Linked DNA regions of Homo sapiens. The protein of the gene in region 1 purifies or fractionates together with the protein of each later gene. This does not show direct contact. Each region holds a gene or a part of one and is shown in the gene's direction. Other genes may lie near its edges. The genes, in order: AKAP9, CDK5RAP2, CSNK1D and PRKACA.

Evidence for each region.
Region 2: the proteins of AKAP9 (region 1) and CDK5RAP2 purify together in Homo sapiens (affinity purification with western blotting; 4 studies listed by BioGRID and IntAct, with this or other methods). This does not show direct contact.
Region 3: the proteins of AKAP9 (region 1) and CSNK1D purify together in Homo sapiens (affinity purification with mass spectrometry; 5 studies listed by BioGRID and IntAct, with this or other methods). This does not show direct contact.
Region 4: the proteins of AKAP9 (region 1) and PRKACA purify together in Homo sapiens (affinity purification with mass spectrometry; 7 studies listed by BioGRID and IntAct, with this or other methods). This does not show direct contact.

The regions. Positions count from the first base shown.
Region 1 is NC_000007.14:92,076,624-92,084,029, forward strand, and holds part of AKAP9 (A-kinase anchor protein 9), read left to right. Parts: intron 1-231; coding exon 232-384; intron 385-1,072; coding exon 1,073-1,252; intron 1,253-2,455; coding exon 2,456-3,529; intron 3,530-5,898; coding exon 5,899-6,039; intron 6,040-6,546; coding exon 6,547-7,032; intron 7,033-7,406. UniProt on the Homo sapiens protein: Scaffolding protein that assembles several protein kinases and phosphatases on the centrosome and Golgi apparatus. Required to maintain the integrity of the Golgi apparatus. Required for microtubule nucleation at the cis-side of the Golgi apparatus.
Region 2 is NC_000009.12:120,576,990-120,585,153, reverse strand, and holds the start of CDK5RAP2 (CDK5 regulatory subunit-associated protein 2), read left to right. Parts: upstream 1-4,986; 5' UTR 4,987-5,175; coding exon 5,176-5,234; intron 5,235-8,164. UniProt on the Homo sapiens protein: Potential regulator of CDK5 activity via its interaction with CDK5R1. Negative regulator of centriole disengagement (licensing) which maintains centriole engagement and cohesion. Involved in regulation of mitotic spindle orientation.
Region 3 is NC_000017.11:82,242,368-82,249,773, reverse strand, and holds the end of CSNK1D (casein kinase I isoform delta), read left to right. Parts: exon of another isoform or gene 1-76; intron 77-171; coding exon 172-343; intron 344-759; coding exon 760-899; coding exon of another isoform or gene 900-1,055; exon of another isoform or gene 1,056-3,302; intron 3,303-3,308; coding exon of another isoform or gene 3,309-3,410; exon of another isoform or gene 3,411-3,576; intron 3,577-3,734; coding exon of another isoform or gene 3,735-3,767; exon of another isoform or gene 3,768-3,798; intron 3,799-4,942; coding exon 4,943-4,993; 3' UTR 4,994-7,107; downstream 7,108-7,406. UniProt on the Homo sapiens protein: Essential serine/threonine-protein kinase that regulates diverse cellular growth and survival processes including Wnt signaling, DNA repair and circadian rhythms. It can phosphorylate a large number of proteins.
Region 4 is NC_000019.10:14,107,763-14,114,762, reverse strand, and holds part of PRKACA (cAMP-dependent protein kinase catalytic subunit alpha), read left to right. Parts: intron 1-571; exon of another isoform or gene 572-607; coding exon of another isoform or gene 608-629; intron 630-2,286; coding exon of another isoform or gene 2,287-2,439; intron 2,440-6,372; exon of another isoform or gene 6,373-6,778; coding exon of another isoform or gene 6,779-7,000. Other genes in the region: SMIM46 (small integral membrane protein 46), read left to right, coding at 2,287-2,439.

The DNA.
Region 1 (7,406 bases):
GGTTTCCTCTCTGCTTTGTGTAGGATAGTTTAAGGATGGCCAGTTTGAGCATGTCTAGGAACCACACAGGTAACACAGATTATACCTGGCTTAGAAAAACCACATTCCTTTATTCTTATGACTCATGTTTTAAGCATGCATACTTTGTAAAGCTAATATAGCACTCTTCATTTTATCTTGATAAACGTTTGTATAAACATTTTTTCTCTTTTGATAATTTTGTTATTAAAGATTACAAACTTAGAAGAGCAATTAGAACAGTTTAGAGAAGAACTGGAAAATAAGAATGAAGAAGTTCAACAATTACATATGCAATTAGAAATACAGAAAAAGGAATCTACTACCCGCCTACAAGAACTTGAACAGGAAAACAAATTATTTAAGGTAATTAGTTAAGAAAAACTTTTATCTGTAAATAAGTCATAGTTTCAGTCCTATATTGCTTTATTATTATTATTATTATTATTTCTTTCTTTTTTTTTTTTTTTTTGAGACTTAGTCTCACTCTGTTGCCCAGGCTGGAGTGCAATGGTGTGATCTCGGCTCATTGCAAGCTCCGCCTCCCTGGTTCAAGCAATTCTGCCTCAGCCTCCCGAGTAGCTGGGACTATAGGCACGTACCACCACGCCTGGCTAATTTTTGTATTTTTAGTAGAGATGGGGTTTCACCGTGTTAGCCAGGATGCTCTCGATCTCCTGACCTCGTGATCCGCCTGTCTTGGCCTCCCAAAGTGCTGGGATTACAGGCGTGAGCCACCACACCTGGCCCCTATATTGCTTTATTAAGCATTCGATAAATCCAGCTGTTAAATAATACTCAACAGAGGAACATTAACAGGCAGACACATTTGCATACAGCTTATTTTCAGCCCAACCTGAACATTTGAATTCATCATAAATGAAAATTTTGGGATCATTTATCAAAATATTTTAGAATTATTGATTTACAGTAACCATATGGTGTCTCTGATTTTATTCATTTGTACGTTATAGGCTCTGATTTCTTTTGTAATTATGTTCTGAAAATGATAGGTAATGATATATCCAACTGTGATAATTATTTTTGTTCCTAGGATGACATGGAGAAACTGGGACTTGCCATAAAGGAATCTGATGCCATGTCTACTCAAGACCAACATGTGCTATTTGGGAAATTTGCTCAAATAATACAGGAAAAAGAGGTAGAAATTGACCAATTAAATGAACAAGTTACGAAACTCCAGCAGCAACTTAAAATTACAACAGATAACAAGGTATACTCATTTAAAATTGATTATGAAATTAATATGAACCAGAGTTTTAAAGGGCAAAATGGTTATAATGTTGCTCCCCATTGAATTTAAAAAACAAACCAATTTTATTTTATTTTATTTTATTTTATTTATTTTTTTTGAGACAGAATCTCGCTCTGTCGCCCAGGCTGGAGTCCAATGGTGCAACCTCGGCTCACTGCAACCTCCACCTCCTAGGTTCAAGTGATTCTCCTGCCTCAGCCTCCCGAGTAGCTGGGATTACAGGCACCCACCATCACACCTGGCTAATTTTTTGTATTTTTAATAGAGATGGGGTTTCACCATGTTGACCAGGCTGGTCTCTATCTCCTGATGTCAGGTGATCCACCCACCTCAGCCTCCCAAAGTGCTGGTATTACTGGCATGAGCCACCACGCCTGGCCCAATTCTCTTTTATTAATTTTAATTTATTAAGACACATTGGTGGCCAGGCACAGAGGCTCACACCTGTAATCCTTATACTTTAGGAAGCCTAGGTGGGCGGATTGCTTGGGCCCAGGAGTTCAAGACCAGCCTGGGCAACATGGTGAAACTTTGTCTCTACAAAAAATATAAAAATTAACTGGACATGGTGGCATACCACCTGTAGTCCCAGCTGCAGTGAGCCTCATCATGCCACTGCACTCCAGCTTGGGTGACAGAGTGAGACCCTGTCTCAAAAAGAAAAAAAAAAAAAAGCAAAGACACATTGGTTTAATAATTTATATGTATTTTTCTCCCCTCCTAATATTGTCATAGGATTCTAATGTTTTTCAGAAAGGCTCTGTGACTTAGATTTTATCATGTTATTCTAACCAAATCTATTATAAATTATAATATTTAATATGAGTTAAGTAAGGTAATTACCTTTGGTGCCATCGGTTGTAGACTTTATTTCCGTACTTCATCCTTTTCCATTAAGAAGTATTGATATTGACTATTTTCCTAATAGGGAATCAGCAACTAAAAGCTTATATTACTTTATACTTAACAGAACTTTCTGAGCCTTGTTTGATATGATGGGGGAGATATTGGTCTATAATGAAATTAAGTAGTATGTCTGAGAAGTAGTGTATTATTTTTGTGTGTGATCATCTCTTTGAGGTACTGCCCTAAAATAAAGTAAAATTTTCAAAATGTAAATACATATATATTATGTATGTTACCTTTTTCATTAATTATTAGGTTATTGAAGAAAAAAATGAACTGATAAGGGATCTTGAAACCCAAATAGAATGTTTGATGAGTGATCAAGAATGTGTGAAGAGAAATAGAGAAGAAGAAATAGAGCAGCTCAATGAAGTGATTGAAAAACTTCAACAGGAATTGGCAAATATTGGACAGAAGACATCAATGAATGCTCATTCCCTCTCAGAAGAAGCAGACAGTTTAAAACATCAATTGGATGTGGTTATAGCTGAAAAGCTGGCCTTGGAACAGCAAGTAGAAACCGCTAATGAAGAAATGACCTTCATGAAAAATGTACTTAAAGAAACCAATTTTAAAATGAATCAGCTAACACAGGAATTATTCAGCTTAAAGAGAGAACGTGAAAGTGTGGAAAAGATTCAAAGCATACCAGAGAATAGTGTTAACGTGGCTATAGATCATCTGAGCAAAGACAAACCTGAACTAGAAGTAGTCCTTACAGAGGATGCTCTTAAATCCCTAGAAAATCAGACATACTTCAAATCTTTTGAAGAAAATGGCAAAGGTTCCATAATTAATTTGGAAACAAGGTTGCTACAACTTGAGAGCACTGTTAGTGCAAAGGACTTAGAACTTACCCAGTGTTATAAACAAATAAAAGACATGCAAGAACAAGGCCAGTTTGAAACAGAAATGCTTCAAAAGAAGATTGTAAACCTACAGAAAATAGTTGAAGAAAAAGTGGCTGCTGCTCTTGTCAGTCAAATCCAACTTGAGGCAGTTCAGGAATATGCAAAATTCTGTCAAGATAATCAAACAATTTCATCAGAACCTGAAAGAACAAATATTCAGAATTTAAATCAACTAAGAGAAGATGAGTTGGGGTCAGATATATCAGCATTAACCTTGAGAATATCAGAATTAGAAAGCCAGGTTGTTGAAATGCATACTAGTTTGATTTTAGAAAAAGAACAAGTAGAAATTGCAGAAAAAAATGTTTTAGAAAAAGAAAAGAAGCTGCTAGAACTACAGAAGCTATTGGAGGGCAATGAGAAAAAACAGAGAGAGAAAGAAAAGAAAAGAAGCCCTCAAGATGTTGAAGTTCTCAAGGTTAGTTTTGTATTTTATTAGTTTCATTTAAATACCCCAAGAAACTAAGCTGATTGCTAATTTACTAAATATGGTGTTCTGTTTACATCTAACAATTTATACAAGAAGGTTTTTATAAAAATATACCACTTATAAAAAATAAACTCTTGTTAAAAGAAAAACTAGGACAGGCGCGGTGGCCCACGCCTGTAATCCCAGCACTTTGGGAGGCCGAGGCGGGTGGATCTTGAGGTCAGGAGATCGAGACCATCCTGTCTAACACGGTGAAACCCCGTCTCTACTAAAAATACAAAAAATTATCCGGGCGTGGTGGTGGGTGCCTGTAGTCCCAGCTACTCGGGAGGCTGAGGCAGGAGAATGCTGTGAACCCGGGAGGCAGAGCTTGCAGTGAGCCAAGATCGCGCCACTGCACACTCCAACCTGGGTGACAGAGCGAGACTCCATCTCAAAAAAAAAAAAGAAGAAGAAAAACTAGACAAACTAAATTTACGAGAGTTTATTTGAACAAAAAAGGATTCACGTATTGGGTAGCATTCAGAACCAGAGGAGTTTCACAAATCTCTTTTGTGCAACAGTGGCCAGTGAATATTTATAGACAGAACTACCAAATAAAATACAGAAATAGCTTGATTAGTTACAGTTAGGTGTTTGCCTTATTTGGACCCAGTCTGCTCAGTTGACTGCTTGTCATTAGCTAAGAGTTGGCTGTTTATTATACTCCTAAGATACGTTTTCAGTTTGCTTACGTACTCCTAAGTTAGATTGTAGTTCCTTACATAGGAACTCAAGATACAGAGACAGCCTCAGGCCAAATTTAACTTAACACTGTGTAGTCATATTATTATCACTAAAATAATGGATACAGACTGTATTTTATGGTCTTTAAATATGATATTTATTTCATTAACATCATCATTAAATGGAGCAGTCAGAAGAAACTAAGAAACATTAATTTTAGCAAATGTTCTCTAGGATTTATGGGGATTTTTTTCTTAATTTGCTTCTAATATGCATGTTATGTTATCATTCCTTTTAAGTAATAATAAGTATGAAAATATGTTAGGATTGACAAAGAATGCAGACTTTACAGAAAGAAATCTATTATTTAATAGCATCTACTGAATTAATTAATGTGTGGGTGACATATTTTACAATTTTTTTTTTTTCTTGAGACAGAGTCTCGCTCTGTCGCCCAGGCTGGAGTTCAGTGGTGTGATCTCAGCTCACTGCAGCCTCCACCTCCTGGGTTTCCAGCAATTCTCCTGCCTCGGCCTCCCAGGCGGCTGGGATTACAGACACGCACCACCACACCCGGCTAATTTATATATATATATATATATATATATTTTTTTTTTTTTAGTAGAGACGAGGTTTCTCCATGTTAGCCAAGCTGGTCTCAAACTCCTGACCTCAAGTGATCCGCCTGCCTTGGCCTCCCAAAGTGCTAGGATTACAGGTGTTAGCCACTGCGCCTGGCCAGCTTTTACAAATTTTATACCTGATAATAGATTTCATCTGTTTTAAGTAAAAATGCGTAGTTGACCTCTGTAAGTTTACTTATGAGAAGATCTGAAATCGCAGTTATTTCTTAGCATATGACAGATAGGACAAGAGCTTTTTTTTCCTCCAAATTCTCACCTTATAAATTTATAACTTTGAGTAGCTGAACTTCAGTCTTCTCCAAACACCAGAAGATTAACTGATAAATCACAATTCTATAATTATATATTTTGCAAAGAATAATAATTCCCTGGCTTTTTCCTCCTTCATTGGAACTAAGTTACTTAAGTTATAGATAATTAAAATAGTAATATAACTTTCTTTTTTTCCTGGACACAGAGTCTTGCTTTGTTGCCCAGGCTGAAGTTTAGTGGCGCAGTCTTGGCTCATTGCAACCTCTCCCTCCTGAGCAGCTGGGACTACAGGTGTGCACCACAACACCTGGCTAATTTTTGTATTTTTTGTAGAGACAGGGTTTCGCCACGTTGCCCAGACTGGCCTCAAACTCCTGGCCTCAAATGATCTACCTGTCTCAGCCTCTCAAAGTGCTGGGATTACAGGCGTGAGCCACCGTGCCTGGCCTAAAATAGTAATGTAACTTTCCATTTTAGGATGTATATGAATAACATTACTTACCTTTTATTCCCAGAAAATCATTCTTTTCTCAAGAAGAAAATCATTGTCTCAAGAATATAAGATGATGGTTCTGAAAAAGCTTCTCTGTTTTTGGAAAGAGCATTGATTTGTTCCAACTCCTTATATCTGTAGGCAGTCATTCCTTGGATGGTTTTATTAGAATGTATAAGAGCCTTGAATTTAGCTATATTTTTTTTAAATTATGTGTTTCTTGTGTTTCCGCTGTCATTCAGACAACTACTGAGCTATTTCATAGCAATGAAGAAAGTGGATTTTTTAATGAACTCGAGGCTCTTAGAGCTGAATCAGTGGCTACCAAAGCAGAACTTGCCAGTTATAAAGAAAAGGCTGAAAAACTTCAAGAAGAGCTTTTGGTAAGATAAGTAACATAGCTCCTAATTCACTCATTTCTACCTATCTTAATTACGTTTCAAAGTATATACTCTTTTATAACAAATGAGCTCCATAACTTAAAAGCTAGATAAAAAGTATTTTGTGGATTTGATGAAAACTTTCATTGTTATAAATTTCTTTACCAACATCTTCTTGCTTGGTTTTCCTGGAAATCTTTCTTAGGAGGATACTTTTTATTTCCATTCTGTTAATGAAGGAGTAGAAAGTTGTTAAAGAGAACTGTATATCCCATGAGAACCAAAAATAGAAGCTAATAAAATTATTTCATTTCTATAGTAATCTATGACCATACGTACATACAAATATATATATGTAAACTGTGAGCGTTTCTGAAATGTTTTTCCTACTACTCTGAGGAAAATGAACGTATAATCATGAATTACATTCCTCCCACACCCTTTAAATTCTACATTTAATATGGGAAGATTTTAACTGAATGCCCTACTGTTCTATTCATTACGTTTTAGGTAAAAGAAACAAATATGACATCTCTTCAGAAAGACTTAAGCCAAGTTAGGGATCACCTCGCAGAGGCAAAAGAGAAATTGTCCATTTTAGAAAAAGAAGATGAGACTGAGGTACAAGAAAGCAAAAAGGCCTGCATGTTTGAGCCACTTCCTATAAAACTGAGTAAGAGCATTGCATCCCAGACAGATGGGACTCTGAAGATCAGTAGCAGCAATCAGACTCCACAAATTCTTGTTAAAAATGCAGGAATACAAATTAATTTACAGAGTGAATGTTCCTCAGAAGAAGTTACTGAAATAATCAGTCAGTTTACTGAAAAAATTGAGAAGATGCAAGAACTACATGCTGCTGAAATTTTGGACATGGAATCCAGACATATTTCAGAAACTGAAACCTTAAAGAGGGAACACTATGTTGCCGTTCAGTTACTGAAAGAGGAATGTGGTACCTTGAAGGCAGTGATACAGTGTCTGAGAAGTAAAGAGGTATTTGGTTTTTATAATATGTGTTTTTCAACATTGTGTGGTTTTTTAAAAAAAAAAAATCAGTTTAATTCATTTTGTAGATGACAAACCAAAATGCAACTCATTAAGGCACTTGATCTTTCTAAGTAGGTGTATTATCAAGGCAAGTTTTAAACTCCTAGTACAATATTCCTTTTTTTTCTTTTGTTATACTTTAAGTTCTGGGATACACGTGCAGGATGTGCAGGTTTGTTACACAGGTATACACGTGCCATGGTGGTTTGCTGCACCCATCAACCCGTCATCTACATTAGGTATTTCTCCTAAAGCTGTCCCTCCCCTAGCACCTCACCCCCGACAGGCCCCAGTGTGTGATGTTCCCCTCCCTGTGTCCA
Region 2 (8,164 bases), on another chromosome or scaffold:
CCAGCACTTTGGGAGGCCGAGGTGGGCAGATCACGAGGTCAAGAGATTGAGACCATCCTGGCCAACATGGTGAAACCCTGTCTCTACTAAAATTACAAAAATTAGCTGGGTGTGGTTGTGTGCGCCTGTAGTCCCAGCTACTTGGGAGGCTGAGGCAGGAGAATTGCTTGAACCCGGGAGGCGGAGGTTGCAGTGCCACTGGACCCCAGCCTGGGTGACAGAGTGAGACTGTGTCTCAAAAACAAAAACAAAAACAAAAACAAAGCGTGTCATTGCCATGAAAGACAGAACTGTCAGAGACTGGAGGAGAGTAAGGAGATGTAACAAGTAAATGCAGTGTGGAATATTGGATTGGATCCTGGACCAGCAAAAGGGAATTAATGGGAAAAGATTAAATTTAAATAAGATCTGTAATAAGTCATATTGTATCAATGTAATTTCTTATTTTTGACAATTGTGCTATGGTTGTGGAAGATGTTAATATTTTAGAAATTCTTTGTACTATTTTTGCAACTTTTTTCTAAGTTTGAAATTATTTCTAAATAAAAAACTAAGAAAGAAGGAAAGAAAAAAAAGTGTGACCTTTGGGAAATCTCTTCCCCTCTCTGAGCCTTTAGTTTCTTCTTCTGTAGAGTAGGGCGATCAACCCAATTCACTTCACAGCATCATGAGGATAAAACGGAAGAGTGCAAAGTAGTAGCATTGCGTATATATTGATCCTATAAAAAGTTATTTTTGCTGTTAGTAATGGCAGTGCAAATGTCTTGATCTGTTAAAGCTTCAGGAGGGTTCTACCCAAATGAAAAACATCTGACTGCAAGCTACTTCCTCCCAGCCATTTGATATGACCTTGTCTGAGGAAATAATAATGCCAGCTTTGTGGTTGGGTGGCTGTTGTCAAGGAGATAGCCCCAGATAGCCCAAACAGCTGGTGGTAGTGACGTCACCTCTAGGTTTGGCAGAAAGATCATGGTGAGACAGAGACAGGACAAAGGCCTCTGTCTCTGAACATGAAACCACTACAGTAGCAGGAAAACCAACTTCCAAATAGCCTTTCCTTTGTGCAATTGATTCTATTTTCAGTTTCTAGGTTCACTAAAGGGTTTAGCACGCAACCCAGGGACATGGTCATGCTGAACAAGGCAATGGACTAATCATAATGAGAGATCCTAGGCTGGGCGTGATGGCTCATGTCTATAACCCCAGTACTTTCTGACGCTGAGGTGGGAGGATCATTTGAGCCCAAGAGTTCGAGACCAGCCTGGGCAACATACCAAGACCCCATCTCTACTAAAAATAAACAAATTAGTCCGGCATGGTGGCACCTGCTTGTGGTCCCAGCTACTCGGGAGGCTGAGGTGGGAGGATCACCTGAGCCTGGAAGGTGGAGGCTGCAGTGAGCTATGATCACTCTTATTGTACTCCAGCCTGGTTGACAAAGCAAGACCCTGTGTCCAAAAAAAAAATTAAATAAGTTAAAAAAACAACCCAACTCCTCACAGGTTCTTTCATCTTCAATAATGTCTAAGGTATTCAATTAGATGAGGCAACCATGTGAACTCAGCATTGTCCTCCCCATTTTACACATGAAAATCGAAGTGTAGCAAGGGGAAGGAACCCCAGGTCACAGGATAAATGGGAGGAGTTTCCAGAGTCAGAATCCAGGTGTCCAGACTTCCAGTTCTGTAAACTGCCCACACTAAGATTCACCTCTTAGCCACTTTGAAGCAGTTTCCCAAGGAGTAGAGTCTGGTGAACACAACCCTTAAATACTGTCGTCTGGATGTAGACCTTGCCTCTTAGTACTAAATTCTAAAGCAAAAGAGAAACCCAAATGGGGATGACAGGTTGCCTGAAACAATCAAGGTGTTGGAATTCAAAGGGCCCTGGTCTCAATTCCAGCTCTGGCACTTACCAGCTGTAGGACCTTCAGTAAGTAGTTTTTACCTTTTGCAGCCTCAGTCTTCTCAATTGTAAGTCAGATAGTAGCGCCTCCTGCAGAAGGTTGTTGGGAGGGTTAAATGAGGTGGTGCATGTAATATGCCTGGAACAAGTGACGTATAAGACATGCTCAAAATGTATAAGTTCTCTTCCTTGTTTATATTCTCAAGAGTTTTCATTGGCTGGAGATGCAAAGTTAGTTCTTTCATGTGGGAAGTGTTAGCCTCCCTCCCCAGGAGAGAGTTGGTTGTATGTTAGTAGCTTTGAAATAAACACAGAAGCCAGGCACAGTGGCTCACACCTGTAATCCCAGCACTTTGGGAGGCCGAGGTGGGTGGATCACCTGAGGTCAGGAGTTCGAGGCCAGCCTGGCCAACATGGTGAAACCCCGTCTCTACTAAAAATACGAAAATTAGCTGGGCGTGGTGGCAGGTGCCTGTAATCCCAGCTACTTGGGAGGCTGAGGTGGGAGAATCGCTTGAATCCAGGAGGTTGCAGTGAGCTGAGATCGCGTCACTGTATTCCAGCCTGGGCAACAGAGCAAGACTCCATCTTAAAAAAAAAAAAAAAAAGAAATGTAGAAATCACCTCCAGAGCTGTAACATCCTGAGAGACCCTGAGAGGTTCAGCCCTCTCATTTAACAGATGTAGAAGCTGAGGTCCACAGAGAAGTGATTGGCCAGGCCGGGTGGGGTGGCTCATGCCTGTAATCCCAGCACTTTGGGAGGCTGAGGTGGGTGGATCACCTGAGGTCAGGAGTTCGAGACCAACCTGACCAAGATGGACAAACCCTGCCTCTACTAAAAATACAAAACTAGCCGGACGTGGCAGTGCATGCCTATAATTCCAGCCACTTGGGAGGCTGAGGCAGGAGAATCGCTTGAACCCGGGAGGCAGAGGTTGTGGTGAACCGAGATCGTGCCATTGCACTCCAGCCTGGGCAACAAGAGCAAAACTCCATCTCAAAAAAAAAAAAAAAGGTGATCTGCCAAAGATCACAGAGTTGGTGGCAGAGCCAGGGTGGGAATCCTGACACCCCAACTTCCCTGCTTTTGGACACACCTATCTCATGGGTTGAACTTACTGGCAAGGAGTATTGGTTCCTGGGCTTCAAGGACTGCCCCGTTCCTGAGGCAGTGCACCAGGTGTGCTAAGCTTTCCCTCTTTTTCATGCTTTTATCATTGCTAATTGTGGGTGTGGTTGAAGATCTAGAGAAAGAAGGGGGACAGGCAAATAATCGCGGGCTTTGGAAGCCTAACTAAAGCTGAGAGAGAGACAGAGAGAGAGAGAGAAAGAGAGAGAATGAATATGAATCTGGGATACACAGAATTACTATTGACAGAGGTCCTAAAAGTATCTCTGATTATTCTCACAAAAACCTTGCAGGATAGGTATTGGCCTTATTTCCAGACTGATTGATTGAATCACTCATTCATTTAACATACATTTTCAAATAGCTGCTGAGTGGCAGACATAGTGCTAGGTGTTGAGGATATAGCAGTGAACAATTCAGAATATAGTCCCTGCCCCATGCAGCTTCCAGTCTAGTGCAAGGAAAGACATTTAAAAAATGATTTTACACACACACACACACACACAAATTGCAAAATATGGTAAGTGCCACAAAGGAATAATTTGCATTGCTAGGAATACAAGAAGTGGCTTGATTTAGATTAAATGACTAGGGAAGGCTTCTTTTGAAAAGTATCAATAATTGGTTAATTACTTAACTGAAGAATGAGGGCCTGGTGCAGTGGCTCAGGCCTATAACCCCAGCACTTTGGGAGGCCAAGGTGGGAGGATTGCTTGAGGCCAGGAGTTCAAGACCAGCCTGGGCAACATAGTGAGACCCTGTCTCTATTTAAAAAAAAAAAAAAAAGAATGAGGAAACAGGGTGAAAGGGGAATTGTTCAAGATTACTGGGAAAGTCACTATCTATCCACTCACCAACCATTTCAAGTTATTTTCATCGGGCTCTCTCACAAGGGCCTGCAGAGGAAGGAGCAACACTGAGTTGAGGAGGGGAAGGTTAATTTCATTGCTTAAGCTCTGCCAAGATTATCTAAGTGTTTGGTGATTGCTATGTGCTTTAAGAAAGGCAGCCAAGGGGCCGGTGCTGTGGCTCACGCCTGTAATCCCAGCAGTTTGGAAGGCCGGGGTGGGCAGATCACGAGGTCAGGAGATTGAGACCATCCTGGCCAACATGGTGAAACCCCGTCTCTACTAAACATACAAAAATTACCCGGGTGTGGTGGCGCAAGGCCGAGGCAGAAGAATCGCTTAAACCCAGAAGGTGAAGGTTGCAGTGAGCTGAGATCGGGCCACTGCACTCCAGCCTGGCGACAGAGGCACCATTTCAAAAAAAAAAAAAAAGAAAGGCAGCCAGGGTTATGCAGAGAGCCCTCATCTAGTTGGCAGGAGCTGCAGACCCCCACTCCAGTTGAAAGACATTGTCAATACTTAATTACTTTGGGAGAGTCCTTTCCTCTTGCTGGCCCTCAGTTTTCTGACCACAGGTGCCTTTGAGTCCTAATGGTAATAAAAGACCAATAGGTGAGAGACTGGAGTGGGAGTGCTGTTGACCACTGGCTCATGGGAATGAGTTATTTGCTTCAAACTAAGTCTGCAAATTACTGTTTGCCTTGAGATTCCGCACGTAGTATTTTTCCAAAGCAAGGCAGCACTCAGTTATCTGAGTTTCAACTTAAGGTCAAATCCCAAAGTTTTGGGGTCATTATTCTAGAAAAGCAAACACGAGGTTAGGAACTTTGAGGATTCCTGAGTGGCTGTATTCATTTCCATCTCCCGCGTAAATTAACGGACTAGGGCCCGCTTTGGCCCTCAACAAAGATGGCACCCGCCCTCGCCTCTCCCTAAGTGCCCTCACAAAAAATGGCAGCCGGCCTTTTTTTGTCTCTTATTTTTGCTTGGCTTAAGCACGGATGCTTTGCCCTTAGTTAAGATGGCACCTATCCCCGCTTCCCTGCCCGTCCTCTGGCGCCAGCCGGTCGGCTTCACTGCGTGCGCCTCCGTGACCCCGCCTCGTTTCCGTAGGAAGAAGCGCCGGGAAAGATGGCGGCGTCTGTGGTTTGAATTCCAGCGGCGCCGCCAGAGTCTGAACAAGAGCTGGGGTGGAGGGGGCGGGGACCTGGGGAGCCCGGCGGGTCGCTATCGCGGGGGGTACTAGTGGCGCCGCCGCCACAGACACCAACGCTGTCGCCACCTCTGTAGCCATGATGGACTTGGTGTTGGAAGAGGACGTCACCGTCCCTGGGACGCTCAGCGGCTGCAGGTGCGGCCGGGGCATTGGTGGTCGTGGTAACCGGGCCGGGGTTCCAGCTGGTGGGATTTCGTTCTAACGCGGCCTTGGGGTTTGCTCTTGAGGGTGTCTGGCCAGGGGCAGTGTGTGGGGTGGGTTCCTTCGGAGAGGGTCTCTGGGGGGCCCACCACCTGACACTCTGGAGGGCTGGGAGCCGCGACCTGCACCACAATTGCCAGTAGCATTGCGCCATGTACTTTGTAGAGCGTGTGAAGAACAGGTAAGGAGTTTTCTGAAAGAGTAGGACGAGGGTGGGGCCACTTGGAGTATCCCGTTAGTGGGGATTGGTGGAGAACAGGGACCTTGAGGGCACCTGATGGTTCCTTCTGGTTTGAGAGTTTGTTTTCATTATGGAGAGAGTGTAGCCGGTATGCCCAGACTTTGCTTTTTGGGTCACATAGTGGCCACCCAGGAGGCAATGGAGTGCAATGATTAAGAACCTTGGCTAGAGTTGGACAAAACTGGATTCAAATCCAGCCCTGTAAACTGACTAGCTGTGTGACCTTGGTAAAGTGATTTCACCGGCTTTCCCATCTGTAAAATGGGCTAGTAATATCCACCCAACAGAGTTGGGGTGAGGATTAAAAGAGGTGATGCCTGTCGAGCCATTTGCTTGGCAGGTGTAGTGCCTGCCACATAATCAGTGCTTAAAAAATGATCTTGTGTTGCCATTAGTGTCATTATTACTACTGTCATCAAAGGTGATATGAATCAGGGAATAATGGCCAAGAGTGGCCTCCCATGGACCTGCCCCAAGAGACTGTGGGAGTCCCCATTGCTGGTGGAGCTGGGGTCTGGTAGGAAGGCCTAACAGAGCGCAACTCTGCTCCACGGCTGGCCCCTGTGGTTGTCCTAGACTCCTGGTTGGAGAGTGAGTAGAGGGAAGAGGAGGAGAGCCCTGACGGAGAACCTGCACTGTTTATCCAGCTCTACTATGGACAAGCTGCTGCTTTTAGTCAACAGATCCTAATTGAAAGGGTGACCATGTTATTTATTGTGCTAACTGGGACACTTAAGAGTGAAAAGAGCCAGGTGCGGTGGCTCACCTGTGTAATCCTAGCCCTTGGGGAGGCCGAGGTGGGCCGATTTCTTGAGCTCAGGAGTGTGAGATCAGCCTGGGCAACATGGTGAAATCCTATCTCTACAAAAACTACAAAGATTAGCCAGGCGTGGTGGCATGCACTTGTAGTCCCAGCCGCTCGGGAGGCTGAGGCAGGAGGATTGCATGAGCCCGGAAGGTTGATGCTGCAGTGAGCTGTGTTCATGCCACTGCACTGTAGCCTGGGTGACAAAGTGAGACTCTATCTTTAAAAAAAAAAAAAAGGAAAGTGAAAATAATTAATATTTATGCCCGGGCAGCAGACATAAAGAGGGCCTATCTTGGGTAAACCTGGACAAATGGTTTTTCTGTTTATTGAGAACCTTCATGTATGAGGCACAGACTAAGATGCTTTGCAGTTCCTGTCTAATTGGGTCCTGTGATATTTCATCATGCCCTTTTCTATCTATTTTACATCCACTGCCCCAATATATTGGGAGTATGGCTTCTCTCTTGTATTGTCCTTTGCACCTCTAATAGTTTTTTATACTACAATTTGAAAACTATTTTTTATTTATTTATTTTTTTGAGACGGAGTCTTGCTTTGTGACCAGGCTGGAGTGCAGTGGCGCGATCTCGGCTCACTTCAACCTCCGCCTCCCGGGTTCAAGCAATTCTCCTGCCTGAGCCTCCGGAGTAGCTGGGATTACAGGAGTGCACCACCGTGCGTGGCTAATTTTTGTATTTTAGTAGAGACGGGATTTCACCATGTTGGCCAGGATGGTCTCCATCTCCTGATCTCATGATCTGCTCTCCTTGGCCTCCCAAAGTTCTGGGATTACAGGCGTGAGCCACCGCGCCCGGCGTGAGAACTATTTTTTAAATATAAATCTGCTCTTCACAGTCTGCTGCTTTATACTTTTAATGCTGCTTATTGCTGTTATCATAACTTCCATTATTATTCTCTCAGATAGCCATTCTTATTTCAGTGCTTTTTGGCCAGACACTTGGGTTTTGGGGTCCCAGGCCTAGCTGGGTTTTAATCCCAGTTCTGCTACTTAACAACCCCTTGATCTGGGGCAAGTCACTCATCATCTGTGAGCCTCAGTGTTTATCATCTGTAAAAGGGGTTGGTATAAAGCCTAGGGTTGGCATAAGGATTAAAATGAATCTTAAAAAGTTTAGCTCAGTGTCTGACCCAGAGTAACTACTCAACAGATCAGCAAATATTCTCCTTTCCCTCATCTCCCTGCCTTTGCAGGACGTAGATACTGCATACATTCCATCTTAACCATTTTAAAGCATGGTTCAGTTGTATTAAATATATTTGTATTATTGCTCAACGGTCACCACTATCTATCTTCGTAACTCTCCATCTTGCAAAACAGAAACTGTGTCCCTGTTAAAACAGTAACTCCCTATTCCCCCCTTCTCCCAGCCTCTGACAATCACCATTCTACTTTCTGTCTCTATGATTTTTTTTTTTTTTTTTTGAGACAGGGTCTCGCTTTGTTGCCCAGGCTGGAGTGCAGTGGAGTGATCTTGGCTCACTGCAACCTCCGCCTCCAGAGTTCAAGCAATTCTCATGGTTCAGCCACTTAGTGGCCGGGACTACAGGCATGCCCCACTACGCCTGGCTAATTTTTGTATTTTTGGTAGAGACGGGGTTTCACCAGGTTGACCAGGCTGGTCTTGAACTCCTGGCCTCAAGTGTTGTGCCTGCCTCGGCCTCCCAGAGTGCTGGGATTATAGGTATGTGCCATTGCGCCCAGCCTGTCTCTATGATTTTGACTACTCTAAGTGTCGCGTATAAGTAGAATCATACACTATTTGTCCTTCTGTGACTGGTTTATTTAACTTAGCA
Region 3 (7,406 bases), on another chromosome or scaffold:
TGATGCTGTCATCCCATGAGGAGAAACGTGCAGCCTGTGGGGGGCTTTGCAGGCAGTCTCGTCCCAGTGCCCTTTGGTAGGTATTTTCTCACGTGGCCGGGGCAGCCTAGGACCTAGGGTTGCTTTCTGCCAAAGCTGGTTCCATTCCGGCCTCACCTCCTGCCTCCTCAGGGTGCCAGCCGGGCCGCCGATGACGCCGAGCGGGAGCGCAGGGACCGAGAGGAGCGGCTGAGACACTCGCGGAACCCGGCTACCCGCGGCCTCCCTTCCACAGCCTCCGGCCGCCTGCGGGGGACGCAGGAAGTGGCTCCCCCCACACCCCTCACCCCTACCTCACACACGGGTGAGTGCCCCCCTCCCAGCGCTCTGGGGCTGGCTCTGGGGTGACTTCTTGTGTCTTGGGGTTGGTGGGGACAACAGGGTACTTGGTGGTGGACACTAAGTGCCCTGTGTCAGGCGATGCTCGCTCCTGAGGGTGGATGAGCCAGGCTGCCCAGGCGCCTTTAGAAATGCCGGCACCTGCTGGTGTGCGTGATTCCTCCCGCATCTCACGTTCCTCCCCTGTGAGCCCCTTGACCTCGCTCCCATGTCCCTTTGTGTCCCTCCGGCCGGATCTGAGTGTTGGTGGCCATCGGCCACAGCCAGGTCCTGACTGTCCAGGCAGCCCAGGGTCCTCTCTGGCCACAGCCTCTCATAGAAAGCCCCGAGTGAGAGGCAGCAGACGGGGGCGGCCCACTCCGTTTCTCTCCCTGTCCTCAGCTAACACCTCCCCCCGGCCCGTCTCCGGCATGGAGAGAGAGCGGAAAGTGAGTATGCGGCTGCACCGCGGGGCCCCCGTCAACATCTCCTCGTCCGACCTCACAGGCCGACAAGATACCTCTCGCATGTCCACCTCACAGGTAGGTGCAGAGCTCCCGGGCGGGCGCTGGGCCTCGGGCTACCCCGTCCGAGTCAAGAGCGGGCTGTGGTTTCTCCAGGGCTTCTTCTTTCCTTTCTTCCCCCCATTTTTGAGAGTTTTTAATCTCGCCAGGGTGTGGCGTCTTGGTTGCAGATGAGGCTTCTCGGGAGGGCCTGGGAGACATGCTGGGCCGTCATGGGGCTTGTCTCCTGGTTGCAGGTGGCCAGTCTCAGGTCTCAGGTCCCTGAGGCCAGCAAACCGTGGGGGCTTTCTCCTGCTGTTTGAGTGCCCCGCTGCCCGCAGCCGTCCCCAGGCAGCTGACACCGCTCGCCTGCTTGCGCCCCATTGTGGGTGCCCCCAGCCCGAGGGAGCCTTCCTCATTCTTCCTCATTCTTGCCACTGGCCAGGGATGGAGGCCCGTAGGGACCTCCACGGGCTTCTTGTGAGACCCTCCCTGGTGGCATGCCCTGCAACGAGGCTTTCCTTCTTTTGACGGCCTCACCTGTCTTCCCTTGGACGAGAAGTACCCTGTTGCGCAGCCCAGGCCTAGCCACGGCCACCGCCTCTTCAGCATCCTGCAGCGGTCTCTCCTCTCCTCGCTCTGGCTTTTGTTGTCTTTTGCGTTTGCTAACGTGCTCTTTGAACTAGAACAGCTTTCTCCATATGGATCCATTATATTTCTTCAAATAGTTTTCTGGGTTGTTCGCCAACAGGGGCAGGGTTAGTGGGGCAGGGCTGTTTCACCAGCAGGCATCCTGGGGGGTGCCCAGATCCCCCACGGGTCTTCCGGATGAGCAGGAACTCAGTTCAGAAATGCCCTGGAGCCTGGCTCTGGGCTTGTGGGGAGGTGTTTGTTGGGATCACAGGATGGAGCCAGGCCTGCTGCCGTGAGCGGGGCTGGGTGTAGCTGGCTAGCCAGGAACATGCCGGAGTGGGGAGCACTCTTGACCACTTGCCGTCTTTTAATGATTGGGGTTTTACTGCACGTTTCTAATTCACTAATAATTTCACTAGAAACAGACCTTTTTGTATAACTTCTTCCCAAAGAGACCAAAGATGCAGGGATTTTGGCTTCGTGGTTATTTTGACTTTGTGGTTATATGAATTGGGCTCGAGGGGTCTGGGCTGCGTCACGAGAATGGGTCCCTTACGTGCACACAACCCTGCTGTCACCTCCAGACACAGCACAGAAAGGGTTTAACTGGCTTCTTTCCACGAGCCTGGCACTTGCGCATCAGTTCCTGTGAGCAGTTCCCGGGAGGGTCTGCCCGTGCCCTCGTGTCTTGATGTGCGGCTGGCTCTGTAGCCCCTGAACCATGGTACAGGAGCCCAGAGTGCTCCCCATGCTGGGTGCTGACCGGACTTGGACAGCCTCGCCCCAGCGCTTGGCTGACAAAGACTAGGGAAGGGGCCTGAGTGCTTTTTGTTTCTTTTAAAGAAAGTAAAGTGTCCAGTGGTTTGGGATCTTTGTGGGCAGTGAAGGTGTCCTGAGCGTGCTGAGTAGCCACAGCCCTGAGTCCAGCTGCCTTTTCTCGGTACACGGCCTTGGCGGCACCTGGGTGTGGCTGTTGTAGCCACCAGCCCCCAAGGTGGCCGTGAGCAGTGTCTCCTTCCATGGTGAGCTGTGGCAGGAACCCGCAGCTGGCTCTTAGGCCCTCGTTTTCCATATGAGGAAATACAACGTGGGCTCTAACAGCAGGGAGGAGTCTCCAGAGAGAGCTGGTTTGGGGGTGTGTTCTCTCCAAAAGAAGCCTCTTGGCCTCTGCTCCTGGACACCCTGGGGGGCCTTCCTGAGAGGCATGTTGAGGGCTCCCCACCTCCAGGGCGGGCCCCCTCCTTTGTCACCATCTCACAGGAAGGCTTTGGCCGTGTGTCCTTCCTGCCAGACTCTGCCAGCACCAGCACACGTGGTGGCTGTGAGCAGCAGCTCCCGTTTTGAATCCCAAGGGGGAATACAGGAGGCTCAATTGCTCTGAGCGCCTCACCTGTTTGCTCGGGTGAGCTGGAGACACAGTCACCGTGGGCAGTGACTCATCCCCGGCCAGTCTTCCTCCTCGGGCCGTCGCTCTTCCCTGTTCTTTCTGCTCCTCTCAGGAGACCTTGCGCCCTGTGGAGATGGGAGGAGGCAGCAGGAAGGTCTCCCAGGGCTTGCTGGCCGTGGCTGGGTGTGGATGGGTGGAAGACCACGTGGCAGCCTGCCTGTAGGTCACAGAGGCCCCCATAGTTGTAGGGCCCCGCCCCAGCCCGGACTCCGCCTGGGTCTGTTCCCTCTTCGCCCCCTCTCTTTTCGGGCTGTTGGTGTTCGGCCAGGGCTCTTTGGCTACAGTAGCCTGGGCCCTAAAGGCCATCTAGTTGCTGAGTCTGTTTGGGGTTTTTACTTGGTGAGAAGAAGGCCTTGTCATTCCAACAGTCGATGACTCGCTTTGATCAACTCCTGCCCAGGACTAGGCCTGAGCCCTGTCGTCGTACCGGCGAGGATGTGCGTCTCCCCTGCCTTCAGGCTGTGCCCTGAGACCCAGTTGTGGGGCTGCCCAGCACCTGCCATCCTGCTGGGATCAGGTTTTCTTAGTGCTTGAGAAGACTCAGGAGGGCCTGTCCCATGCCATTGTTGGCCTTAAGAGCAAGTGATTCCAGAAGAGGAGTGGGCACCACTCTCATCCAGAGGCCCGTCCTGAGAGGCAAGTGAGGCTGTGCTCTGTGCCTGGGCTCCCCCAGGTGGCACCTGTCGGTCTGTGGACCTGGTTGAGGCAAGGATGCCCATCTGGACATGGAGCCGACACAGGTAGTCAGGGGGCCAGCGGGACGCTTACCAACAGCTGTCTTTTCCCCACCTCAGAATAGCATTCCTTTCGAACACCACGGCAAGTAGCTGCTCGTCTCCCATCGGAAGGCAGCACTGGGTGAGTGTGCGCGTGGCGGGCGCCAGGCAGCAGCGCCAGGTGGGTGGGAGCCACCATGCCCCACCCATGGGAGCTTGCAGGTGGGCTGGGCTTGCATGCCAGGTGCTGGAGGTAGAGTGAGGCTTCTTCTGCTCTGTTCTTCTTGTGGGGTGCAGAGCGGCGGCAGTCCGCTGCCCAGTCTTGGGGGGAGGCTGTCCACAGAGAGCTTTGGAACAGAGTGACCCCAGGAGACCATCCTGTTGGCCTGTGGCCTCCCCGTGACTGCGTTCCGTGTGCCGTTGCTCTCCTCCTGTCCTGGGTGCCCACCCGTGAGGCAGGAGTGGCAAGGCGGGTGCCCCGAGCACTTGAGTTGCCTTGTCTGCGGTCGGCCGTGCCTGGAGGGGCGTCTGTGTCCTGCTCAGCTGGGTGGCTCCACGCTTGGTGTTGGGGGCTCCTAAGCTCTTGCTGCGCCACACTCTGGGCAGTCTCTGCCATGCCAGCTTTTCTAGTCGCCTCTCTCTTCCTGTCTCATTTATCTCTGTCCTTGTTTTGTGTTTCTTTTCACACTTGGTCTCTGCCCAGCCGTCTTGTCCACGCAGCTTCGTCTGTATTAACTCCTCCAGCCGCAGCCCACTCACTCCCCGCCGTCGGTGCATGGCCGGCGTCCACGCTGTGCTCCCTCCTCGGCGGCCACGCGCGCTCGGCGGCTCCTTCCAGCAGGGGCTTGCGCTTCTGTCGGGTCTGTGCCGCTGGGAGACCCGCTGCAGTTTTCACACTGTGCACACTCTGGAAATGTGTTGACAGGAACTGCTTTTCATGTCTTCCCTGAGAGGGGTACCCATTTTCAAACACCAGGTTCCTTTCCAGGAAGGGAGGCAGGAGCACCCGTCTCCGCTCCACTCGGATCCTTCGACCCTGCCGAGCCCGGCTCCGCGGGCACCTTGCTTGCATGCCTCTTCCTCCTTCCCGTCTTCCTGTCACTCGTTCTGCTGAGCACGTGTCCCAGCCACAGAGGCCCCTGTGCGTGGCGGGGGACGCAGGCGTCTAGACTGGGGCTAGGCGGTGGCGGTGCGTCCCCTCCCTGCCCAGCACCGTCACTGTGGTATCTGCCTGGCCGGCTCCCCCAGCCCCATGCTGACCTTCTCCTGTGCTTTGGCTCCGACAGATTCCTGGTCGGGTGGCTTCCAGTGGTCTTCAGTCTGTCGTGCACCGATGAGAACTCTCCTTATTGCTGTGAAGGGCAGACAATGCATGGCTGATCTACTCTGTTACCAATGGCTTTACTAGTGACACGTCCCCCGGTCTAGGATCGAAATGTTAACACCGGGAGCTCTCCAGGCCACTCACCCAGCGACGCTCGTGGGGGAAACATACTAAACGGACAGACTCCAAGAGCTGCCACCGCTGGGGCTGCACTGCGGCCCCCCACGTGAACTCGGTTGTAACGGGGCTGGGAAGAAAAGCAGAGAGAGAATTGCAGAGAATCAGACTCCTTTTCCAGGGCCTCAGCTCCCTCCAGTGGTGGCCGCCCTGTACTCCCTGACGATTCCACTGTAACTACCAATCTTCTACTTGGTTAAGACAGTTTTGTATCATTTTGCTAAAAATTATTGGCTTAAATCTGTGTAAAGAAAATCTGTCTTTTTATTGTTTCTTGTCTGTTTTTGCAGTCTTACAAAAAAAATGTTGACTAAGGAATTCTGAGACAGGCTGGCTTGGAGTTAGTGTATGAGGTGGAGTCGGGCAGGGAGAAGGTGCAGGTGGATCTCAAGGGTGTGTGCTGTGTTTGTTTTGCAGTGTTTTATTGTCCGCTTTGGAGAGGAGATTTCTCATCAAAAGTCCGTGGTGTGTGTGTGTGCCCGTGTGTGGTGGGACCTCTTCAACCTGATTTTGGCGTCTCACCCTCCCTCCTCCCGTAATTGACATGCCTGCTGTCAGGAACTCTTGAGGCCCTCGGAGAGCAGTTAGGGACCGCAGGCTGCCGCGGGGCAGGGGTGCAGTGGGTGTTACCAGGCAAAGCACTGCGCGCTTCTTCCCCAGGAGGTGGGCAGGCAGCTGAGAGCTTGGAAGCAGAGGCTTTGAGACCCTAGCAGGACAATTGGGAGTCCCAGGATTCAAGGTGGAAGATGCGTTTCTGGTCCCTTGGGAGAGGACTGTGAACCGAGAGGTGGTTACTGTAGTGTTTGTTGCCTTGCTGCCTTTGCACTCAGTCCATTTTCTCAGCACTCAATGCTCCTGTGCGGATTGGCACTCCGTCTGTATGAATGCCTGTGCTTAAAACCAGGAGCGGGGCTGTCCTTGCCACGTGCCAAGACTAGCTCAGAAAAGCCGGCAGGCCAGAAGGACCCACCCTGAGGTGCCAAGGAGCAGGTGACTCTCCCAACCGGACCCAGAACCTTCACGGCCAGAAAGTAGAGTCTGCGCTGTGACCTTCTGTTGGGCGCGTGTCTGTTGGTCAGAAGTGAAGCAGCGTGCGTGGGGCCGAGTCCCACCAGAAGGCAGGTGGCCTCCGTGAGCTGGTGCTGCCCCAGGCTCCATGCTGCTGTGCCCTGAGGTTCCCAGGATGCCTTCTCGCCTCTCACTCCGCAGCACTTGGGCGGTAGCCAGTGGCCATGTGCTCCCAACCCCAATGCGCAGGGCAGTCTGTGTTCGTGGGCACTTCGGCTGGACCCCATCACGATGGACGATGTTCCCTTTGGACTCTAGGGCTTCGAAGGTGTGCACCTTGGTTCTCCCTTCTCCTCCCCAGAGTTCCCCGGATGCCATAACTGGCTGGCGTCCCAGAACACAGTTGTTCACCCCCCCACCAGCTGGCTGGCCGTCTGCCTGAGCCCATGGATGCTTTCTCAATCCTAGGCTGGTTACTGTGTAAGCGTTTTGGAGTACGGGGCCTTGAGCGGGTGGGAGCTGTGTGTTGAAGTACAGAGGGAGGTTGGGGTGGGTCAGAGCCGAGTTAAGAGATTTTCTTTGTTGCTGGACCCCTTCTTGAAGGTAGACGTCCCCCACCCGGAGAGACGTCGCGCTGTGGCCTGAAGTGGCGCAAGCTTGCTTTGTAAATATCTGTGGTCCCGATGTAGTGCCCAGAACGTTTGTGCGAGGCAGCTCTGCGCCCGGGTTCCAGCCCGAGCCTCGCCGGGTCGCGTCTTCGGAGTGCTTGTGACAGTCCTTGCCCAGTATCTAGTCCCCGTCGCCCCGTGCAGGAGACGTAGGTAGGACGTCGTGTCAGCTGTGCACTGACGGCCAGTCTCCGAGCTGTGCGTTTGTATCGCCACTGTATTTGTGTACTTTAACAATCGTGTAAATAATAAATTCATAATGACTTCTACCTTTCTTCCCTCCCCTTTCCATGTGGTCTTTATTTCATCAGCTTGAGAGTTTTCACTGTGTTGAGGTGAACTGTGTGAAAATACTTCTTTGAGATGGCTGTTTGTTCTTTCTCAGCCTGTGGGTGTCTGGGAGCTGGCAGAGCAGGAGAGCTGCCCCCTGGGCCTGCTGCCGGGCAGGGAGGGGTGGCGACTGCTCCTCGCCGTGCTGCCCCCTTGGGCTCTGTTGTGCACACAGAAGTCCACGCACTTTCTGTGTGACGGTTCTGGAGAGTCCCTGCCTTCTCGGGCGGCACCGGCAGCCGC
Region 4 (7,000 bases), on another chromosome or scaffold:
CAAAGCCATTGGGAGAGCTGAGAGGGCCAAGAAAAAAGACTAAGGCCCAGGCTCTGGCCAAGTTGGAAGAATGGAGAGGGAGCAGCGGCCCCAGGGGGCAGGCGCCCAGGTCAGACAGCCAAGTGGGGCTCAGGTCGTGGCTGGCACTGGCTGAAGATACCCCTGGGAGCTGGCCCACAGGGGAAGGGGCAGAGCTAGTAAAAGGGAGCCCCCGATCCCCAGGACACAAGCAGATCCTGGCAAAGAGAGAAAAGCACCCCCCAAGAAGACCCTAGATGGGAAGAACTAGTGCCGTGTAACATCCTATGGATGCCTAAGACGGCCAAACACCTTCTGTGCCTTGGCAGTTGTATGGGTGCCCAAGAGGTCTTATCAAGGCAGCTCTCCCCTTAGCGCAACCGCGTCTACAGAAACTCGGAGGGCCCTATCTGTCCCTCCTCCACACCCAGTGGCCTCTGGGTTGGGTTTCTCTTCCTGCTCCCACCCCACGGCTCCCTAGCTCCCCCTGCAGGCAGGGTTCTGGGGACAGACAGCCGAACAGACACGGCAGGTCTCATGAGCCTTCCCAGCCACCGTAGTGCCGGTGCCCTGAGAACAGGACTGAGTGATGGCTTCCAACTCCAGCGATGGTGAGGCTGAGTCCTGTTACTATAGCAACTTCCTAGGCACACTCTGCCCCTTAAGTCAGGGAGGGGCTGCAGCGGGGTCTGGGGCACAGGCGAAGAGAAGAAGGATGTGAACCCCTGGCTGGCCCTGGAAACGCCTCCTGTACAGCCCCGGGCTGTGCGGCCTGGGGAAGAGAGAGGGGATCGGTGGCCCAGTTCAGACAAGGGAGGATGGTCCACCCGGCAGGGGGCCAGCTCAGAGAGGGGTGGTGGAGTGGTCCATCCCAGTGTTGGGGTTCAGCTCAGACTGTAGGATGAGCCATCCCAGTGTTGGGGTCCAGCTCAGAATGGGGGTCGTTCCAGCCAGTGTTGGGGTCCAGCTCAGAGTTGTGTCATTTAGGTAAGCCCAGAGCAGGGAATCCAGGCTCCACTGGAGGAATCAGCCAGCCTCGAGTAGGGGGCCCAGCCCAGGCTGGGCATTCCTGCCCCAGAATTCCCAGGACAGCCAGATTTCAAAAGGGCAGAAGGTCTGAGATTGTTGTCCGGAGGAAGGGGGTTCTGTGGCTGGGCTCCTTCCGAGAGAGACCCCAAGCCCCTTGCCCAAATTGATATTCTGCTGTTGCAATTCCCCATTCCCAGGGCGAGTTTCTAGATTTCTGCTTTCTGCTGTGGTCCTGGCTTTTCAAGGGGTGTCAAGGAGTTTTCCCTATGAACCCAAATGGAATCTGGACCAGAGTGAGAGCTGGCACCCCCCGTGTGGGAGATGTGGGCAGGGCGGCAGGCTGTACAGGCCAGCAGCTGGCTGGGTTACCATCCTCTGCCACTTCCTGTTGCTAGCAGGGGTCCTGGATGCCGGGCACACTCAAAGAGGCTGCCACTGACCCTCTGCTTCTTTTGGGATCTGGAAAGAAGGAGGAAGATGGTCAAGGCTGCCTCCCCCTCCCCCACCCCTGGGTTTAGCCGCTCGTTTCCGGTTTGGACTTTCATGGCCGAGAGTAGAGCCAAGCACAGGGCAAGGTTTGAGAGAGGCCAAGGACATCCCGGGATGCCTTTCCCCTCTCCACCCCCGCATAGGAGCAAAACAAAAGAGTCAGATATACCCATTTTCTCTCTCAGGATAGCAGGATTTGGGGGTTCCACATTGAAAGGGAGTTCAGGGGAGGAGGCAGGGTGGCTCTTGTCGCCCCCCGCCCCAAGCCTTTCTCTCCAGCTGTTCTTTCAGCGAATTAAGGGAGCTCTGGGGCCTCTTTAGCCCCTAAGGAGTCTCTGGCTGTTGCCTGATCCTGAACCTTAACTCTTTCCCCTCTGCCCAGTGGGCACTGCTCTGGGCACATCAGGCGCTGTCCTCTGCACAGTCCAGTGCCCACTGAGGAAGGCAGGGCCTGGCGTCCTGGGAGCAGTGAAGTCCGTGGAAAGGGAAGTTAGTTTTATCGCCCCGCCCTGGGGCACGCAGGCCAGCCAGAGGGACACCCTCGGGAGAATCTTCCCATTGCCTCCTGCCAAGGGAGCCCTCTGCAAACCTTGGCTAGCTTGGAGCAGGTACCTTTAAAAGCTTCTGTGGCAACCAGCTCCTCCTCCCTGGTCCCCTGAGGCCATCCCAAGGAAGCTGACTTAGAGGCTCTGCGTTTTCCTGGTTTCTCAGCAAAAGGAAGATTCCAGGGAGAGCCCAAGGGGGCTGGGGATGGATCTGGGATCAGGCAGCAGCCAGGGTGGGGACTTGGAGACCACCTTCCAGCTGTGGCTGCAGCTGCTCCTCTGGGCCCACCTGGCTGTACGTTTCCTGGGCTACCTGCACCGCACCTTCCGGGGGCCTAAGCCACAGCCAGCACCCTGAGCCTCCCTGGCCAGGGGGCAGAAGGCCGCCAGATCACCCCATCCCACCCACCCTTTATTCTACCCTTTCCTGGAAGAGACAGGAAGCAGAGGTGAGTGTGGGGCCTCTTGATTGAGGTTACCTGCCCCTCCCCCCCATCATCCCTCTCTCTGCCTGCTCCTCCTGGCACTGGCCTCCCCCATGCCCCATCCCCAAATCTGACAAGCTAACAGGGCTAGTGGCACCAGAGGGGACAGAGCCTGGGCGCTCTGGTCCTTTGAGAGGCCAGAGAAGGGCCATGCTAACAGCAAGGCACCCTGTGGAGCGACTCTGTGGGGCACCAGCGGACAGCCAGGGGCTGGGAGCTCAGCGAGTCGGGGAGGTGCAGGATTCAGCAATTCTTTCCTTTTTGCTAAGAGCAAAGGGAAAACGGACCAGACCTTTTGGATTCCCTTCAAGCCTGGCACCTCTCTGCCTTCTTGTGTGGGTGAAGGTAGAATCCCAAGAGGGCACCCTCCACCCTCCCCACCCACTGCTGAATTCTGTGTGGATTATTTGGAGGTTTCCAAGGAAGATGTTTTCTGTCACAAAGGTTCTATGACTGAAGCCAGGCACAGTGGCTCATGCCCGTAATCCCAGCACTTTGGGAGACTAAGGTGGGGGAATCCATTGAGGCCAGAAGTTGGAGACCAGCCTGGGCAACATAGCAAGACCCCATCTCAAAACAAAATAAAACACTCAAACAAAGGTTCTGCTAGTGAAAGTGTTGGATTTGGTGTGACCCCCAGGCTCAGGCCCCTGGGCTAGTTGGTGGCCCAGCCAGGCACCCATCTAGGACTCCTGGCCATTCATTGCCTATCCCCTCTCCGCCTGGTCATTTATTGTGGGGCCTTCTTGGCCACGGTCTCTCTCCATCTGCCATCTACCACTTTCTTTTTTTTTTTTTTGAGACAGAGTTTCACTCTTGTTGTCCAGGCTGGAGTGCAATGGCGCGATCTGAGCCCACTGCAACCTCTGCCTCCCGGGTTCAAGCAATTCTCCTGCCTCAGCCTCCTGAGTAGCTGGGATTACAGGCATGTGCCACCACGCCCAGCTAATTTTGTATTTTTAGTAGAGACAGGGTTTCTCCATGTTGGTCAGGCTGGTCTCAAACTCCCAACCTCAGGTGATCTGCCTGTCTCAGCCTCCCAAAGTGCTGGGATTACAGGCGTGAGCCACTGCACCCAGCCACCATCTACCACTTTCTAGCTCCATGAGGGCTCTTCTCTCTGAATGCTGAGGGAAAGCTCTGGAGACAGGTAGTGGGGGTGGCTCCCCACAAGGCCATGTGGGATTACTGGCAGGCAGATAACCAGCAATGCCAAAGGGCAAGTGTACAGGGCCCCTCGGTGGCAGCAAACCCAGGAACATCAGGGGGTTGAAGGCAGCTCTGTCCACATTGGCCACCCTGGTGCACTGGACTCAGCACTGAAACCAATGGCTGAGTTGGCAGTGAAGTAGTTAATCTCATGGGATGTGGGGGCAGGCAAGTGACCTCAGACCTGATCAGTCTTCTCCTCTGTACAGTGGGAATAACAGCAGCTCCCACCCCACAGGGTGAGAACGAAGCATAGAAAATACTCAGCAAGGGGCTGGTCCCTTGTAGCCCTAGGTGGTGGTTAAAAGGACAAGTCCATAATGCAAGAATCTGTCAGGCTGCGCATTTAAGATTTGAGCACTCAGTGTATCTCCTATATTTGTTTTTGGGGTTTTTTTATTATTACTTTTTTTTTTGAGACAGGGCCTCACTCTGTCACCCAGCCTGCAGTGTAATGGCTCAGTCACGGCTCACTGCAGGCTCTATGTCCCGGGCTTGAACAATCCTCCCACCTCTGCCTCCTGAGTAGCTGGGACTACAGGTGCATACCACCACACCTGGCTAATGTTTTTATTTTTTGTAGAGGGTTTTGATGTTGTCCAGGCTGGTCTCGAATTCCTGTATTCAAGCAATCCCCCCAACTCGGCCTCCCAGAGTATTATTATTTTTTTGAGAAAGAGTCTCACTCTTGCTCAGGCTGGAGTGTAGTGGTGTGATCATAGCTCACTGCAACCTCAATCTCCTGGGCTTTAAGCAATCTTCCTGCCTCAGCCTCCTGCTTAGCTGAAACTGCGGGCATGGGCCACTATGCTCAGCTAATTTTTTAATTGTTTTATTTTTTGTAGAGATTGGGTCTTGCTATGTTGCCAAGGCTGGTCTCTAATTCCAGGCCTCAAGCGATCCTCCAACCTCGGCCTTCTAAAGCACTGGGATTACAGGCATGAGCCACCGTTCCCGGCTCTCCCTATGTGTGTGTGTGTGTGTGTGTATATATATATATATATATATATATATATATATATTTTTTTTTTTTTTTTTTTTTTTTTTTTTGAGACAGAGTCTCACTCTGTCGCCTAGGCTGGAGTGCAGTGGCATGATCTCAGCTCACTGTAACCTCTGCCTCCCAAGTTCAAGAGATTTTCCTGCCCCAGCCTCCCAAATAGCTGGGATTACAGGCATGCGCCACCGTGCCCAGCTAATTTTTGTATTTTTAGTAGAGACGGGGTTTCACCATGTTGGCCAGGCTGGTTTCAAACTCCTGACCTCAAGTGATCTGCCTGCCTCGGCCTCCCAAAGTGCTGGGATTATAGACGTGAGCCACCATGCCCGATCGCTCCCCATATTTTCTTTTCTTTTTTCTTTTTTTTTTCTTAGACGAGTCTTGCTCTGTCACCCAGGCTGGAGTGCAGTGGTGCAATCTCGGCTCACTGCAACCTCAGTCTCCCGGATTCAAGCAATTCTCCTGCCTCAGCCTCCCAGGTAGCTAGGATTACAGGCACACATCACCACCACGCCTGGCTAATTTTTTTGTTTTGTTTTGGAGACAGAGTCTCGCCCCGTCGCCTAGGCTGGAGTGCAATGGCATGATCTCAGCTCACTGCAACTTCTGCCTCCCGGGTCGAAGCGATTCTCCTGCCACCATGCCCGGCTGATTTTTTTGTACTTTTAGTAGAAACGGGGTTTTACCATGTTGACCACGCTGGTCTTGAACTCCTGACCTCAAGTGATCTACCCGCCTTGGCCTCCCAAAGTGCTGGGATTATAGGTGTGACCCACCGTGCCTGGCCTCATTTTTTTATTTTTAGTAGAGATGGGGTTTCGCCATGTTGGCCAGGCTGGTCTCGAACTCCTGACCTTGTGATCCACCCACCTTGGCCTCCCAGAGTGCTGGGATTACAGACGTCAGCCACCTCACCCAGCCTCTCTCCCCATATTTTATACCTCAATTTAGAAAATAATAGGCTGGGCACGGTGGCTCATGCCTGTAATCCCAGCACTTTGGGAGGCCAAGGTGGGCAGATCACCTGAGGTCAGGAGTTCGAGACCAGCCTAGCCAACATGGCAAAACCCTGTCTCTACTAAACATACCAAAATTAGCTGGGCGTGGTGGCAGGTGTCTGTAATCCCAGCTACTCAGGAGGCTGAGGCAGGAGAATCATCTGAACCTGGGAGGCGGAGGTTGCAGTGAGCTGAGATTGTGCCACTGCACTCCAGCCTGGGCAACAAAGTGGGACTCCATCTCAAAAAAAAAAATAATAATAATTAAAAAAAATAAATTGGCCGGGCATGGTGGCTCACGCCTGTAATCCCAGCACTTTGGGAGGCCGAGGCGGGTGGATCACGAGGTCAGGAGATCGAGACCATCCTGGCTAACACGGTGAAACCCCGTCTCCACTAAAAAAAATACAAAAAATTCTCTGGGCGTGGTGGCAGGCGTCTGTAGTCCCAGCTACTCAGGAGGCTGAGGCAGGAGAATGGCGTGAGCACGGGAGGCGGAGCTTGCAGTGAGCGGAGATTGCGCCACTGCATTCCAGCCTGGGCGACAGAGGGAGACTCCGTCTCAATCAATCAATCAATCAATCAGTCAATAGATAGATAAATAAAAAATAATAATAGCTGACATTTATCTGGCACTATCATCACACGGGGCCACTGTTCAACTCCCTTTGTCAAGATGAACTCATTCATTCCTCAAAACCACCCCACTTTACAGATGAGGAAAACTGAGGCCTAGAGAGGTGAGATCAGTTACCCAAAGTCACAGAGTTCATCAGAGACCAGGCTGGGCTCTGAACTGGATCTTGACCCCAAGTCCTGGCCCTTAGCCACTTTGCTGGGCTGTGTCTCAGCAGAGACGAGAATGACTGTTTTCAAGCCTGTTTCCTGGGTTGTTAAGTGGAGACAATGGATACAAGGCAGGTTGCCGAGTGAGTCAGATGAGACAGTGTAGACAGCAGCCGGCACAGGGTCTGCCGGGGAAGTTTCAACATTAGCCAGGCGGTGATGTTCACCTTGGGATACCATGGGGCCGAGGAGTGGGCATCGGGCGAGACTTCCCTTGAACCAGCTCTGGAGCAATGCCCTTGCGATTGCCACGGAGAGGAACAGGGCCAGCTGGGGGCCAAGGTGACAGCTGAGCCCCCCAAGGGCACCTGCTACCCGAGCCCCCGAGGCCTCCATCCCAGGCCCGGCCTCCCCAGAGAAGGGGCCAGAGGAACAGCCAAA